Linked DNA regions of Homo sapiens. The protein of the gene in region 4 purifies or fractionates together with the protein of the main gene of each other region. This does not show direct contact. Each region holds a gene or a part of one and is shown on either strand. Other genes may lie near its edges.

The links.
Region 1: the proteins of TLCD5 (region 4) and TOM1L1 purify together in Homo sapiens (affinity purification with mass spectrometry; one large-scale study listed by BioGRID and IntAct). This does not show direct contact.
Region 2: the proteins of TLCD5 (region 4) and NDRG3 purify together in Homo sapiens (affinity purification with mass spectrometry; one large-scale study listed by BioGRID and IntAct). This does not show direct contact.
Region 3: the proteins of TLCD5 (region 4) and ZFTRAF1 purify together in Homo sapiens (affinity purification with mass spectrometry; one large-scale study listed by BioGRID and IntAct). This does not show direct contact.

Annotation. Positions count from the first base shown.
Region 1 is NC_000017.11:54,914,195-54,918,216, reverse strand, and holds part of TOM1L1 (TOM1-like protein 1), read right to left. Parts: intron 3,579-4,022; coding exon 3,474-3,578; intron 2,472-3,473; coding exon 2,355-2,471; intron 1-2,354. UniProt on the Homo sapiens protein: Probable adapter protein involved in signaling pathways. Interacts with the SH2 and SH3 domains of various signaling proteins when it is phosphorylated. May promote FYN activation, possibly by disrupting intramolecular SH3-dependent interactions.
Region 2 is NC_000020.11:36,655,233-36,659,254, forward strand, and holds part of NDRG3 (protein NDRG3), read right to left. Parts: intron 1,301-4,022; coding exon 1,265-1,300; intron 1,180-1,264; coding exon 1,128-1,179; intron 1-1,127.
Region 3 is NC_000008.11:144,448,870-144,453,181, forward strand, and holds the end of ZFTRAF1 (zinc finger TRAF-type-containing protein 1), read right to left. Parts: intron 3,702-4,312; coding exon 3,490-3,701; coding exon of another isoform or gene 3,311-3,489; exon of another isoform or gene 2,256-3,310; intron 1,902-2,255; coding exon 1,510-1,901; 3' UTR 713-1,509; downstream 1-712. Other genes in the region: TMEM276-ZFTRAF1 (uncharacterized protein LOC157542 isoform 1 precursor), read right to left, coding at 1,510-1,901, 3,490-3,701.
Region 4 is NC_000011.10:120,323,962-120,328,444, reverse strand, and holds the start of TLCD5 (TLC domain-containing protein 5), read right to left. Parts: upstream 3,147-4,483; 5' UTR 3,077-3,146; intron 1,324-3,076; exon of another isoform or gene 1,070-1,323; coding exon of another isoform or gene 1,004-1,069; coding exon 805-1,003; intron 1-804.

The DNA.
Region 1 (4,022 bases), on a different chromosome or scaffold from region 4:
ATTTGGCCCATAGGCCACAGTTTGCTAACTCTTAAATTAGAGGACAGCACAATTCAGGACATTCAAGGTTGCCCACAGTGAGTACTGCCTAGAACATGGAAGGAATATGAAGGGTGCTCCATGCCTAAAAGCCAGAAGCCAAGAAGCACAAGGGGCTCTAACAGATTGGTTGAGGTACGGCAGTGAAATAACCAGGAAAGACAACCCCTGCTCATGCCCCTTCTCTCATTTGAGACCAGATAGCTGAGAAAGGAGTAATGTTTCCAGGTGGAAACAATGATTGGGACAGAGGGATAGGGTATTATTTCTAGGCACTAGTAGCATTCAGGAAAAAAATAGAGAATACATAATCCAGAAGACCATCCATAAATGGATCCCAAACAGCATCATCCCATGTTGCTATACCATACTCTGAAAATATTATCAAGCACAGCAGTAGCAATTACATCCTCCCTTCAGCATGGGTGAGCTGGGTCAGCAGAGAATGCAGACCAGCTGGCAGAGAGTCTCACACAAAAATGAGCTCACTATCAGCAATCCAGCTGAACACTGGAGAATGCAAATTAAAAAATGAACAAAAAATTTGCAAAGGAGAGTCCACAGAACAAACAAAAAAGCAGCGTTAAATATAATTATTATCCTTGGAAAGATAAAGAAAAGCAGAACCATGAAATGAAAGAACTGTTATAAAAATCCAACATATTTTAAAAATATTTTAAAATTATGTACATATTTGTATATAGTAAATATGTTTAAAGTACATATTTTTAATAGAAAGAAATTGTTGAAACATTTATTAGAAGGACTGAATAAGCAACTCAATTACAAGTTTTAGAGAAATACATTAAACAGAGAAATTATCCCAGAACTTAGAATGAAGAAATGAAAAGTATAAAAGAAATGTTAAGAGACAAATGAATCCAACTGGAAGTTTCATCGTCTTAAAGTTCCATAAGAAGAGAATAGAAAGAATGGTAGAAAGTCAATATTTAAAGTAGGAGCTGAGAATTCCTAGAATTAAAAATACACATAAGTTGATAAGGCAAAAAAGCCTATCATCTACTAAGGAAGATAAGTAAGTTAAACAAACATCTGCACACATGTACATATATCTCTTCAGAGGGAACAGTACAATTTCTGAAATATTAACGTAGAAAAATAACAAATGCAACTAGAAAAAAATATTATTAATCAAAGGATTAAGAAGCAGAATAATATAATACTTCTATCAGCATTAGTGGGTGTAAGAGAACAGTGAAGCAGTATCTTCAAAGGCCTAGAATTTTGTGCCTAGAATTTTATATCTAGCTAAACTAACCTGCATTTAACATGACAATCAGAGGACATTTTTGGATATGCAAGCACTCAAAGTTTGCACCAAAGTTTACCAACATGGGTGTACTGCAGCAAGGAAAAAACAAACTATTCACGACAGCAGTGATATCTAAGAAACATTGTTGGGAAAATTTTTACAATTTTTTTGTTTCCCAAATAAGAAATGAGCAAGGAAAAAGTTATTTACTAACAATCTAAGAAGTTAAAGGAAAAATAACATGAGAGGTGGCGAGTGGGAATCTGAGAAAAGTAAAAATATCTTAAGCTTCTTAACTTGGCAACAAAGGGACTTAGAAACTAGAAACTGATTTTTTTTTCTAACTGCTTCTAAAATTAATAAGTTTTAAAATTTAAAATAATTAGAAGAGCAAACTGGTAGAGGGAAAAATAAAGTATATGTATACACAGACATAGCAGAAGGCATAGGAGGGCTGTAGAACTACTCATGCAGGTCTAAATGCCCTGTCTACTTGTTCCTCTATAGCTCGAGCATTGCCTCCATCTAGACCATTCTTAAAAACCTCACATCTCTCCTTCTCCCCACCCATGATCCCACCATATACTGAACAAATTTATACTACAGTATCTATAATACTTCATTATGTTTGTTGTTTACAAACCAATCTTGCTCATTAGGCATAAACTCTTAAGGACTAGAATAGCCTCCTTCTCATTTCTACATCCCTTCCTATATCACAGTTACTCAATGTTTGTTGAGTGGATGAAAATAGAGGCAATTTTTACATACTTAAAACAACTAGAGAATTGATTGTACATGACCAAGGTTATAACTTATAATAAATTATTTGTTGCAAGAGGCTAAAAACCATGTCTAAGTTACTACTGCATTTCTGACAAAGTCATTCTTGGATATTTTTGTTAAGTTTAGAAATCAACTGAAATCAGGATGTAGGAGGATGTACTAGACAATATTAAGGTGTCTTCCATCTCCAAACTCAAAGTTTAGAGAATAACTTTAAGAGACACTTTGACTGATAGTCCCTGAAATCGTACAACACCTGCAGAAGCTCTATGTCTTCATGGTTTTCAGACCCAGGAGTATTCTCCATCAATATGGCGGACATCACTCGCACATTCATTTTCACCATATCCAATTCACTGTGCAGTTTTCCAATCTGTAGAGAGCAACACAATCACCAGTCAGTGCGACACACAAAGAATAACTACCTTGTTTCCTGCCCCCATGGGACATTTGCTGGATGAAAAAATGCTTTTGCAAAATTTAATATTTTCAAACTTAAATTTAATTTCATATAAATATACATATAGTTATTTTACAAATGTATACCTTGTCACCTTCTAAAAGGACTTGAGATCTCTTGTAATAAACCCCAAAATATGCTTTAGGAATTTTAAAAATGAAAGGAAAAAAAAAGATTAGAACCCAATATGGAGAGGGGAGAAGTACCAGGTACCTAGCAGAAGAAGGTACCAGAAACCTGGATAAAATGGCAAAAGTTATCCTGAGTTTCTTGGCAACCAATAGGGTAAAAGAAAAACAAATGAGGGTTATCCAGTTCTCATGGTATTAAAGAAGAAGGAATAAAGAAACACCTTTTCTTCCTGTATTAAATTCTAAGAGGAATTAGTCACATGCATTTTTATATAAGAAAAAAATAATACAACAAAATCTTCAATTATAGTTCCTTTACAGCAGAACGGAAATTAGCCTCATATAATAATTGTTTATCGGTACCTTGGATAAACTGATATACACAAAGAAGTAAATACAATTCAGTTGGCATAATAAATACAAGTAATAAGACTACCATTTACTAAACTCTCTGAAATATGTGACAGTCCTACCAGAAGTAACAGGAATTAGCTGATGGACCCTAGATCCAGTCCACAGTCAAGGCTCCAGAAAGCCATGAAAGCCGCTAGGCAAGCACAACTCTTACAAAGTTGGGCTTTGGAAGCAGACAGAACCCATGGGATTACTCCTTCTTGGAACTGAACTATGGTAAGTCACATAGTATTACTAAGCCTCAGTCTCTTCCTCTGTGAAATGAGTGTACCTACATCTCAATGTTGTTAACCAGAAAAGACAAACTGTATATAAGGTGCTTACAAATCAGGAAAAGACATCAATTAAATGCAATGATTGTTGTTGTTACCTGTTCTGGGACCAATGTAACAGTCGAGTTCTTTGGAGCAATTACAGAAGAAAGAGCTGGTGCAGTAGGGACAGATGTTGGAGGATTTGATGAGATTTGAGCAGTCTATGAGTATGAAACATGGTAATATTATTATGTGAATTAACATAGCCACCCAACGCCAAGTTTTTTCCATTCAGCTAACTCAAGCACTCTCAAAGTCCTGTGTACAGGGTATCTGCCCAGAGTAAATCATCAGCTACACAACCCGTCCAGCATTTTGTGAAGAATGCTAAGCAAATGACATGCCCATAATAAAGCAGGTATTCAACAAAAGGTGGCTATTAGGATTATCATTTACAATTTAATAAAATGCCCTTTTTTTTTTTTTTTTAACCAAGGGTCTAAGTGATAAACTGCCATGTGAGATTATTGATGCCTTCTCTTTGGGTTGTTAATAACAAATGGTAGCTCAATTCATGTCAAGTCCTTTTAAGCCACAGCTGACAAGGCATCTCCTTCTCCATCAATGACCCTCCTTGGGTCAATGCCACATCTCCAACCTTGGGT
Region 2 (4,022 bases), on a different chromosome or scaffold from region 4:
AGACATACATGGTCTGCCTGGCAGGTACAGGGCTGCACCCAGGGCCCAGCTGCCCAGAGCAGCTGACCAGACAGCTCGCCAATGACCATTATCCACACTAATACCAAAGACAGGAGAAAAATCACCCTACTGGGTAAAGAGCTCTGTACCTGGGTGAAAGAGTTTTTCTAAAAACTCCAAGAAAGGAGCAAGTGTAGATAATTCTGTGACCATGAAAAAGCTCAGAGGTCTTACAATACAAGAGACCAGGACAATGGCATATGATATGGACACACCCTTGGACTTGCTCTAAAACACTCTCCAAGTTCGTCCCCTGGGGTGGAGGAGACTTTACCAAGGATACTGCCCTTTTCTCCTGGAGTCTCCATTTCATTTCTCTAGGTCAGGAGTTATTAACCAGCTGAGTTTAAATGCAAATCATAATTTCAGATTCACACCTAGGACAGCCTAAGCTGCAGGGGTTCAAAATGTGGGCTCTGGAGTCAGACTGTCAGGGTTTGAATCATGGCCCTGCAGCTGAATTTTTACCCTTGGCAATGTGCTTAGTCTCTTTGAGCCTCAGTTTCTTCTTCTATAAATTGGCACTAATAACAGAATGACTTCTTAGATTAAGAATATATAGGTTGGGCACGGTAGCTCACGCATGTAATCCCAGCACTTTGGGAGGCCAAGGCAGGCAGATCATGAGGTCAAGAGATCAAGACCATCCTGGCCAACATGGTGAATCTCCGTCTCTCCTAAAAATACAAAAATTATTCGGGTGTGGTGGCACATGCCTGTAGTCCCAGCTACTTGGGAGGCTGAGGCAGGAGAATCGCTTGAACCCAGGAGGCGGAGGTTGCAGTGAGCTGAGATCACACCACTGCACTCCAGCCTGGCAACAGAGTGAGACTCTGTCTCAAAAAAAAAAAAAAAAAAAAAAGAATATATATTGCCTGATGAAAGTAAGTGCTGAGTGTTAGCTTACAAATACGGACAAATGAATGTTCCATAAACATTTCAGTTTCTACTTTGCTTAAGGCTAGCTGCCACAGAGGTTATATCTCAAGAATTGTGGGCTCCCAGATGTGAAACTGGCTCCCAATATTCCTAAATCGTTGCTAGATAGAAAGTTGTGTACTACTCACTGTAGCCCATTCCCTGCAAAAAGTACTTGAAGGCCTCGGTGAGCTTCCCAGGCTGGGGGGATAAAACAAGAGGGCATTAATTTTTGCATAGACAGAGAAGCAGAATTAAATGGGTGTTTAAAAAAAATTCTCCTTACCTGAACTACCTGGGGCAGTCCCCCACAGTCCGCCATCTAGAAAAGGAAAAATATGCAAGTCAGCTGGGACTTACCCTTAAGAGAATTGCTCTGAACACCCCAAGTCCTTTCAAACAGAACAAGATTGAATTCTAGGTTTTAATGTTTAACTGCAAGTTTGCATCTCAATGCACCTACGTACAAACATTTATAACCTTGGATGAAAATCTGAAATAATTATTACATACTTATTTATCAATAAGACTGAAGCCCTGACTTTCAGGCCCATGGTGGGAATTTTCTGTTGAGGTGATAGTGAAGTTAACCACTACTCTCAACCATGAAAACCACCTGAAGAAGGTTCCTTTCAGAGCCCTCGAACAGTGTGACCCTAACTTCTCTGTGCATCAAGCTTTCCAAGTCCCATTTCAACTCTACATTATCTTTCCTCCGTGAGTAAGGGCACTCTGCCATCAGGAGCTGATACTGATTCAGCCGGCTTGCTCAGTCAGCCACTTTCCTCTAATAGCTGGGTTTGGTAATGCTGCTTTTCACTTCATAAACATTTACAGCTGGTTATTCTCACGTGTGCAAGGATTTCTAGGGTATGGCTTCATTAGTGTGCCCTGGAATTACCTGAAGGACTTGTTAAAACTCAGATTCTTGGATTCCTATCCCAGAGATTCTGATTTGATAGGTTTGGGGTATGGTTCGAGATTGTGCATTTCTGGCCGCGCGCAGTGGCTCACACCTGTAATCCCAGCACCTTGGGAGGCCGAGGTCGGGGGGATCACCTGAGGTCAGGAGTTCCAGACCAGCCTGGTCAGCATGGTGAAACTCCATCTCTACTAAAAATACAAAAATTAGCCGGGCGTGGTGGCACACACCTGTAGTCCCAGCTACTCTGGAGGCTGACACAGAAGAATCACTTGAACTCATGAGGCAGAGGTTGCAGTGAGCCAAGATCATGCCACTGCACTCCAACCTGGGCGACAGAGTCCGTCTCCAGGAAAAAAAAAAAAAAAGGAACGTACATTTCTAATAAGATCTCAGGTGATTTGAATCTACTGTCCACAGAAAAGCGTTTTTAGGGCATGTTGGCCATAGGCCTGCTCTCTTTCTTCCAGCTGTTACACACTCTGGACTCAGATGGTATTCTTCAGGCTGACTGGCTTTTTTTAAAAAGGAACATGAACCCCATGGTTTCAATTCACTGGCATTAAAACTTATTATGAAGGGGGACTACTACTGAGGAGAATGCCACAGAAGACGCAGAAGTTTGAGATTAACAAGGGAGAGGCCCCTGAAAATTCTAAGCATAAGATTATAAACAAACATTTAACAAATATACAAAAAAACCAAACCAGCACAGACTGTATTTTCATGAAGTTTAGGAGCTGAAACCTGATTAGAACACAGAACAGTTCCCATATGCAGAGAGAATACTGGGAGAAACTATTTCCAAGATGGGTACCTATCAAATGGTTTGAGAATCAGTTCAATCTGCCATAGGAGTTATCCACTCTATTCTATGGTGTTGTAGATGGGCATTTTTGCGAAAAATAACTATGTCTATGGTTATTGTAGGGTTTAGTTTTATGCTTTTGTATATTGATTCAAACCTGAAATGAGAAACTAATTTGAAACTATAAACTTAAAAAAAAATTTTTTTTGAGATAAAGTCTCACTCTCGTTGCCCAGGCTGGAGTGCAATGGTGCAATCTTGGCTCACTGCAACCTCCACCTCCCAGGTTCAAGCGATTCTCCTGCCTCAGTCTCTGGAGTAGCTGGGATTACAGGTGCCCAGCATCATGCCCGGCTAATTTTTGTATTTTTAGTAGAGATGAGGTTTCATCATGTTGGGCAGGCTGGTCTTGAACTCCTGGCCTCAGCTTCCCAAAGTGCTGGGATTACAGGTGTGAGCCACCATGCCCAGCCCCTCCCCAAAATTTTTAGACCAGCCCATCAATTGCCTGGAGGGCAGAACATTTTGAATGTGGTCACCTCAGAGCATTAACTTCACATTAGATTTCTAGGAACTACAGGCGTTTGTGGTAACAGCACTTCCCTTTCAAACACACTTCAAAGGGAAAAGGAAGATGGCAGAGGTCTTTCAGACTGAAAATGTAGCAGTAAGCAACATACGATCGGCATTGAAATCTACAGTAGTCCAAGTTCCCAAGTTCAAACTAGAAGGTCAGCTACCTCAACACTTTAGTAGAGGCTCTAGGAAAAGCTAAGATGAAACAATGACAGGCAGAAACTCTTGCCTCGGTTATACTCAAAAGGGGAGACACTTGATACTAACTCTAGATATTTAGCATAAGAGTTGGTCTGTATTTGCCCTAAGAGAAAGAAAATGCATCCACCCTCATCATAAGAATTGTTACTAAAAGCTTCCTTACCAATACAGCAGGATTTTGCATATACAGAATTTACATCCATTATCTTCTCACAATATTAAATCATGTTGACGAAGTTTTTTTTTTTTTTTTTTTAGAGACAGGGTTTCACTCTGTCACCTAGGTTGGAGTGCAGCATCAGGAGCACAAATCCTCGAATTCCTGGGCTCAAGGAATCCTCTCGCCTCAGCTTCCTGAGTAGCTGGGGCTACGGATGCGCACCACCAAGCCCAGCTAATTTTCTTATTGTTTTTGTAGAGACAGAGTCTCACTATGTTTCCCAGACTGCTCTCGAACTCCTGGCCTCCCACCTCGGCCTTCCAAAGTGCTGGGATTATAGGTGTGAGCCACTGCACCCAGCCAAAGTTTTTAGTTAC
Region 3 (4,312 bases), on a different chromosome or scaffold from region 4:
ACAGCTCCAGAAAGTTTCAGCCCGTGAGGGGCAGTGCGGCGGCCCGGGAGGGAAGAGCTGACTGGGAGGGTCATGCTGGGCTGTGCCATGGTCAGCCGCCCGGATGATGGCGCTTACATTCTGCCCCCAGTTCCTCTCCATTTCTCAGCCCTCGACCCGTGACCAGCAAAGCACAGGACAATGTGGGCCAGGCCCCAGCAGCCAGTGGGGGCGGGTTGGGCTGCTGTGAGGCAAGTTAATGCACCTGACTGGAGCAGAGGAAACCAGTTCTTTGGTATTGAAGCAACAAAAAGCTATCACGGAAGAGCCACATCTCCTAAGCAAAGGTGGGGGCGTCAAGCTGTATCCTTCCCAGTAGCCCTGGGAGTCCCAGGGGAAGAAAGGACCAGGGATTACCCCTCCAGGCAGGGTTCCTTCCCATCCTGTTAGGCCAGCCCTGCTCAGCCACCACGGGGCACATCAGGGGGCGGCCAGGGTGAGGATGGGAAGGGCCCACCTCCTCCAGGTGAGAAGCTGGGCTGCCCAACCTCTGACCTCTGCAGCGAGCCCTGAATGCAGGGCCAGCAGCAGGACCCCGAGAGCAGCATGGGGGACACACCTCAGACTCTCACCCAGCCAGGCGCCCAAGCACTGACCCAAGCTTTCCACACAGCCTGGGGACGCTGGGCCCTCAAGGCTGAATCTACAGTAAATAGACTCTTTCTCACTAAAATTGTGTAACTTATCCAAGAGCCTGCAAGGAGTTTAATCTTTTTCCTGGGAAGAGACAATTTCACCCTGCTTTCGGAAAATGCCTGCTGAGCCCTGGTGGCTGAGTCCTGTCTCCCTGGGAGCGGCCGGTTGGCCAGGGCAGCCCCGACCCTACCTGGATCTTCCTGCCCAAGCCTCAGTCTCAAGACCCCATGACAGAGTGTAGGGGGAGGCAGTGTCTCTGAGTCTTTCCTCGGGGGACGTGTGCGGGCACACAGATGGGGGCGGGGCAGGCTCTGACCCCCAGGCCAAACCAAAGCCCCCACGCTGTCCATTCACAGCCATGCCTTCCCCTCGAACAAAACAGAAAGTACGAAACAAGGCTGCCTTTTAATTGCTATCAGATATTCGGATATCCCGTCTGATGTCAGCAAGGCCCCCGCGCCCCGCCGGAACCCGCAGGGATGGAGCAGCACCGCCGCCTGACTGCACAGAAGGGCTGGGGCAGGGTCGCTGTGCCTCTCGGCCTCCTTGCTGCCACCGTCTCTGAGCCTCGGGGCGCCTGGTGCACCGTCTCCTCTTCGGGTCAGCCCAGCCTCTGGCGGCCCTCGGAAGGAGGGGAGGCAGGGGTCGGGGGGGTGAGCCGGAGGCGGGGGCCCCGTCGCGCACGCATGCAGACTTGCCCTGTGTTGGCTTCGTTTGTTCTCCTCCTTTGCTAAAGTGATCAGATAGTCCTGTGAAGCAGCTGCCAGCCAGGTGGACAGGGCAGCGGTGCTGGGATGCCGCCCGTGGGCTCCTCGGACATCCTGAGGCCCCGCCCTACTTCTGTATCTGGAACAGGAAGAGCCGCAGGTTGATGTTCTTGGCAGCCAGCAGCTTGTTGCACTCCACGGAGTCAATGATGGGCAGTGGCACGTAGTCCGTCTCGTTGCTCTCGTTGGTGAAGACAAAGTGGTAGATGACGGGGCTGATCCTCACGTCGTCGTAGGGGCCCTTGAGCAGCAGGAAGGAGCACTCCAGCGGTGCCGTGACCTTGCTCTTGAGGAGGAGCTGGAAGGAGAGCGTACGCTTGCAGGACAGGTTGGGGTTACGCTCCGAGTCGTTGACTCGAGCCTTCAGGACCCACGTCTGGTTCAGCACTGTGAACCTGGGCGTCTCATAGTACAGGCGCGTGATGAAGTCGTCTGTGCGGTACGGCCGGAACTGGACCTCTGTGGAGACAGACAGGGCCGGAAAGAGCCGGCTGTTAGTGTGGGCAGGGCTGGGCAGCAACGCCTTCCCTGACCAGGCCGAGGGCAGGCTCAGCCGGGGAGGAAGGCAACTTACCCGGACACCGGGCTCTGCTTGTCACAAGCAAGCCAAACGCAACTATGGCAAATGGAGGTGCACACAAGCTTTGAGGGGAACAACCACAAACAGAATCAACATGGATTAGCTGGAGAGTCCAGAGGCTGCACGTGTCAGGCCACACCCCAGGCGTGCCCGACCCACGCTGGCCTCCCTCACCGCCCCGAGCCCCGGGTGTCCCCCAGGGCGGGGTAAGCAGACACACAGACAGGATGCGGTTCCGAGAACAAGTGCACTTTATTGGTTCTGATACAGAGGAGCTGCCAGAAAAGCCAGCAGGCGGCTGCGGCACCCAGCCCTGCCCGAGGGGAGCACCAGGTCTGCAGGCACCGGGCCTGATCCGGAGCTGCCAATCAGCAGGCAGCCCTGCCTGCACAGTCCTCTTGGGCAGCCCACAGCCTGTGGCCGGCAAGTCCCTCCGTGGAGGCGTGGGTTCCCAGGTGGCCAGTCTTTCCTGCGCGAATGGGGCTTCTCACCTGGCCACGGCCACAGCCACAGTGCCCCAGCCTGCCTAGACTCCACGAGGCCCCGGTATCTCCAGGACAGCTAAGGCTGCTACTCACCACGGGCTGTGGCTGCCGCAGAGACCCCAGGCCCTCGGCCTCTCTGGCCTGCTCGGGCCCACATCCCGCTGGGCACAGTCCAGGCAGCAGGGCGGGACTGGCTGCCCACGACCACCCTGCTTGCGCCACGCCTGGTGCTCTGAGCTGGCCGCCTGGTGTGGGCTGAGAGTAGAGGGATGGAGCTTCCTCCAGTGGCCCCAGCATCAACAGGTGCTTCTCGCTGTCCTCTGGGCCAGGCTCTGGCCTGGCTCCTGCTCCCCGACACGTTCAAAGGCGGTGGCAGCGGCCCAGAGAGCCACGAGATCCAGTGTGCCTGCGCACGCATCCAGCCTGGGCGTCTGTGGGTGTCCACTCCCGGTTCTACAGTTTGAGTCGGGCACCCTCAGCTTGTTGTGGAGCCCTCTCCCTGAATGGCTTCGTGCCAGCCTTGAGAGGCCCATGGCCGGGGCAGTGACTGCCTGCAGGTAGGACCTCACTCGGCAGGGTGCTCTTCTTGCCCCAGGGTCCGAGGGGCAGGCCCCTAGCTCCCAGGCCCCCTGAGACCTGCCCACTTTCTGGTTAGACCCTGACTGTCTTGAGGCTCTGGAGCCCCACAGTGAGATGCCACCTTGCAGGGATGGTGAAGCCAGGGTGGCGAGGACAGGTGGGCGGGGCTGCTGTGAGAGCCACACAGGTGTGCACCTGGGGTCTGCCTCGGCCCCTCCTTCCACTCAGTCTCCGGCCTGTCTTCTCGACCGAGGTGTCCACCTGTCCACCGGGAGCTTGTCCAGAGCCCGGCTGTCCGGCGCTGTCAGTGCCCAGTGCCCAGAGCCTGCTGCCCCCAGACTCCTGGCTGCCAGCCCCCCAACCCACACCTGTGTGGCATGCAGCAGGCGGCGGGGCGCCTCACCTGTGTAGCCAATCTTCTCGAAGCTGAGCAGGCTGAAGATGCTGTTGTACAGCTGCATCTCCTTGCGGTGGCTCTGGTCCATCCCATCCAGGATCTCCATCAGCTCACTGCCTGTCTTGGTCGGGTGGGCGCACGCAGCCTCGTGCACCGTCAGCTCATGGAAGGGGCCGTGCCATGGGCAGCCGATGCGTTTGTACTTGCACTGGGTTACCCTGGGGGAGGCAGGTACATCACTCACAGACTGAGCCCCGAACAGGAGGCTGCAACAAGCTGTCCTCCCATATGGCTTCCATCCAGCTAAGAACCCCTTCCTGCAGGACACACGTAACTGTGAGCCCACCCCCCAGGATGAGGTCAGAGTGGCAGCATGTGGAGAGAAAGGAGACAGGCAGAAAAAGGGAGAGAGAGGGGAAGGAAGAGTGCAAGCTTGAGCCTGTGTGCCCCGCACCATGGCGTGGTTCTCTCCTCTGTTTGGCAGTGGTGGTCCTGCACAGCCTCACTGCAGGAGACTTGGTGGCTGCCTCCACTGGATGGGTAGCCATGGGCAGTGTACCCTCACACCAAGCTCCCTGAGGTCCTGCGTTGGACACGCTGTCCTGGGCCCTTCAAGGGGCTCCCCCACAGCCACAAAGAGCACTGGAAGGCTAGGCTCATGTCCGGATAACAACTGGGTGCAAAACCCACCTGTCCCCATCCTGTGCAGGCACCCTCCCACAGGGCCGTCACTGGGCTACACAGGTGGTCCCCAAGGCCCAGACAGCAGAGACAGCCAGACCACCCTGCACAGGGCCCTGCTGCACCAGGGTGGGCTCCCAGCAGTCCT
Region 4 (4,483 bases):
CTGTGGTACTGTGTTATGGCAGCCCCAACCAATTAATACAAGGGGGTAAAATTTTTGCATACTTGGCCGGGTGCGGTGGCTCACACCTGTAATCCCAGCACTTTGGGAGGCCAAGGCGGGTGGATCACGAGGTCAGGAGATCGAGACCATCCTGACTAACACAGTGAAACCCCATCTCTACTAAAAATACAAAAAAAATTAGCTGGGCATGGTGGCGGGCACCTGTAGTCCCAGCTACTCGGGAGGCTGAGGCAGGAGAATGGCGTGATCCTGGGAGGCGGAGCTTGCTGAGATTGAGCCACTGCACCCCAGCCTGGGCAACAGAGCAAGACTCCATCTCAAAAAAAAAAAAATTGCATACTTCTGAAAGTAACACTTGTACATCTAGTAACAAAAAGGATAAGGAACATCTCATCCTCTTAACATAGACATGGAAAGATGCTGTCTTTTGAATAGACAGTCAAGTAAAAGTTGCAAGTTGCCAAAAATATGTATGATACAGTTCTATTTTTGTCTTTTCGGGGGTGGTAGTGGAAGATGTTGATACTGGCTTTATAGTTTTTGTATTTCCAATTAAATTGTAACAAGCAATTTAAAATCTGTTTTAAAAGTAGAGAGTTATGAAAAGCAGAAACAACAGGTGACATAAACAATATCAGAGTTAACAATGAAGAAGAATAAGGATTCCAATACAAAATTATAATGGGAATTAGTCTTCAGTATTGTACAAATTCTGTTTAAAAGTCCCATACTTCTAAGACTACCCCCAAATCATAAATCCCTAAGGGAAAATCCCCTACCTACCTGGGTGGGTAAAAGGCCATGGGCCATCAATGAAGCCAATATAAGCGGAGAGGCCTATAGAGAGGACTCCATGGGTGAAGGTGACCAGGCGGCAGCTCCACTCATAGCTTCGGTGCTTATTCAGGTGGCAGAAAGAAATATAGAGCGAGAGCCAGCCACACAGGCTGCACAGCACCTGCAGACACAGAGCTAATGCCATCCTGTGATGAAAAGACCAAAACCAGAAAAACAAAGGATGCACCCTAAGAAAACAGCACTGGGTCATTTTGTGTATATATCCTCATTTCTATTATAGAATAGTTCAAAAATATTGCCTTATCTTATTTTCCTTATCTACACGGCCAAGAATCTTCTATTTAAGTATGGCTGTATTTATCATTCCAAGTTCCTCAGAGATAACATGTTAGCAACTGGTCAATGTTGTAAACTGGAAACCAGGAACTGCACTCCGAGCTGGTAGGCTGACATCACATTTTATGATGAGTAAATGTCAATAATAACCCTCTAGCGATGACTGACCTTGGGCAATAATACACAGAAAATAAAGCACATGTATTAAATAATGTCTTCACAGTTCAAAAACCCCAATGAAACGCACTCATGAAAAAACAGAACACTGCCACGTTGGTTTCTGCTAGAGGTCACATGACACATGGCAGTTTAATGTGGTTTTAAGCTGATACTAAATTCAGCTGAGGTTTGGATTTGGGTCACAGGTTCATCAGTCAAAAACAAAACTTGGGATAAACTTAAATACAGAACTAAACAAAGAGTCCAGACATCTTGGAGGTTGGGGGGAAATCCTGGCTTTATTCAGTTCTGAAATCCGACCCAAAGATTTGCCAAGAGTGAAGCAGAAGGATTCTAAGGTTCAAGAGGAGGGGAGTTTTTGTTGAGATCTAAAAATATCCTTAAGGCAATTATTCAGTTAAAAATGAAATGAAGCCAGAAAGCTGTACCTTGGAACTTTTACTGGTGACAAATACGTTAGGACAAGAACAACTATAACTGAGTCAATTTAGTCACACAGGACTAAAATCTAAATGAGCAAGATGTTGTTATTAGTTAGTATTCATTAGCTCCTCCATTGAAACGTACAAATAAAAAGTCAAAAACATATCAGATATCTACTTCATCTCAGCAGACATTTTCTGCATGGCTATGCTTATTGCTTAACCTTATTCTGACCAGTGAAATAGTTATCTGTGGACGTCAATACACAAGCCACTTCCCAAGAATGCTATCCAGAGAGGGCTTCATGAAGGTCAAGTTCTGTACAGCTTTCATCTGAAATCAGATTTCCATTCAAGAAAACCGTAGGTGTCCATAATAGACCTGGGTTCCAATTCTGTCTCTGTCCCTAGAGAGACTAGCCATAAGAGTGTGGGCAAATCACTTTAACCTCTAGAACCACAGTTAAAAAAAAAAAGAAGAAATTAAAGAAAAGAAAAGAAGGAAGAGGAAGGGGAGGAAGGGAAAGGAAAGAAAGAGACTAGGACTGAAGAACTCTACAGTCCGGTCCAGTTCTGACATGGAGTTCTGAGATAAACTTTGTAAAACATCAAGGCCAATTCTCAGAGTAAGGGCCAGAAATACAAAGTATCCCAGGTGAAGAGAACTGCCCTCCCTTATCTCCTTCTAAAGGCCAGGGTCACTGGCCAGTAATGCGGATCAGCTCATTTGGATATGCCTATTAGTATTTTTAGAGTCTTCTTCTCTGAATCCTAATTCCTTGGCAGAACAGAGAAAACAGTAGCCCATTTACAAACACTTAAATAAAAGAACAGACATTCGTAAATGGCAGACACAACTCTGTGACCTTGGGAACTCCCTGTGTGGGTTTCGGCTTTTTGCTCTTGGTTTTTGCCAAAGAACGGAAGGGCATTTGGAAGGCCATCGCGGCTCAGAGGTCCAAGGCTCCTCTCCTGGTTTCTCCCGTTCCAGGGCCAGACTGGCGAGGAGGAGCCTTGGAGCAGGCGTGGCTGGCGGCGAGCGCGGGCCCCGGGGCCTCGCAGGGACGGCGATCGCATCTCCGCGCGGCGGTGCCTGCGACGCTCGGCCACGCCCGGACCAAGAGCCGGAGCCAGGCACCGTTATCCCCGCATCCCGCTGGCGCCGCAGCCTGGCGCAGGAAGGCCTCGGGCGTCCGAGGCAGGAGGAGGCCCGCTCCCCTTCGGAGGCGAGCCCGGGCCCTCTGCCGCCTCCTTCCCCACCAATGGGCCGCGCGGGCCCCGTGCCCACCCCGGCCGGGCAGTTCGCGCCGAGCGGTTACCTGGCGGAGCGCACCGGGAAGCCTCGGGCGCCCGGGCGCCCGCAGCTCCCGGCCCGGATCGCGGCAACAGGAAGCGGAGGAGCCAGAGGCGGAGGACGAGGCTGTGACGGCGGCGGAGGAGGAGCCGGGGGTCTGGGGGCACCTGCTGGCTGGGAGGATGGAGCGCAGAGCCGGAGCCGGGCCACCGACGCTCCGAAAGGGCGCGGGAGGGTCCTCCTTCTCTGGCGGGGGGGTCAAGAGGGATCTAGCGGTGACGTGAGACCTGGAGGCCGCTGCTCTTGTTTAGCTGTTGTTGTTTGTTTAAATCATTATCCACTTCTCCCCTCCCCTCAATGGGACAGCTCATCCAATCAATTTATCGAGTACCTACTAAGTACTTGCACCCTTACTAGGCATTGTGGGGGATGTAAGACATCGTTCTTGCCCTCGTGCTTGAATTTAAGTCGTGAAACAGGAATTGATGAGCAGGAAAGTGCTCAGGCCTGAGAATTAGAAGTTACAGTATTCCAGTCAGCCCTGTAACCAACTTGACAGTAAAGCATAAGGCTTGAAAGTGAACCTTGCTTGGTACCTCTTTGGGCAAGTTACTTTTCTGTTGCCTCCCTTTCCTCGATCCTGAGGATGGGGATAGTAATAACACCTATCTCATATGGTTATTTTGAGAATTTTAAAATATTACATGTGTAAAGTGCTTTGAACAATGACTGGCACATGGAAGTCACTACATAAATACCAACTGTTTTATTTCACTTTGGGTAAATCCTTTTCTTCTCTGGTTCTATTTTAATACCAAGCAGAGTAAGTTTGAGCGATAAGAATGGAGGCTCGAATGGGGTAAAGACGGTGTCTGTCTTGATTGATCAGGACAGGCAATCCCGGGTGCTGAGGAACCTAGACATTCTCAAAGGAGAAGACCGTTAGCAGAGGTGTGAGTGTTTAGGCCGTGCCTGGGGAATAGTAAATATTCTAGTTTTGGTCATTTATCTTACCAACTCTTCAAAGGTAAGGATGGCACTGGTTTCATCTTTGTTTCCCTAGTACCTAGCATGAGGCAGGTACAATAAATGTTTGTATGTTGAATTAATGTGAAATGAGCCTGGGAAACTATCTTGGAAGCATATCACAGTTCCTAAAGTGTGTTGATCAACTATGCCACTTGGGAAGTGTTTTCAAATACCCTGTGCAGGCTGTACCTTGAATATTATGATTTATTAGGTCTGGTATGGGGTCCAGGGATCTGTATTTTTTAAAACCTGCCCAGGAGTCATTCAGACGATCACATTTGATAACCATTGCTGTTAGAGTCCTTAAATGCCTCTGATGCCAGCCTAAGATGCCAGGCTGAGAGAGCTTATTATGTGGAAGCTCATGATGTTATTGAACAAGGGAATCATATTATCATGCTCT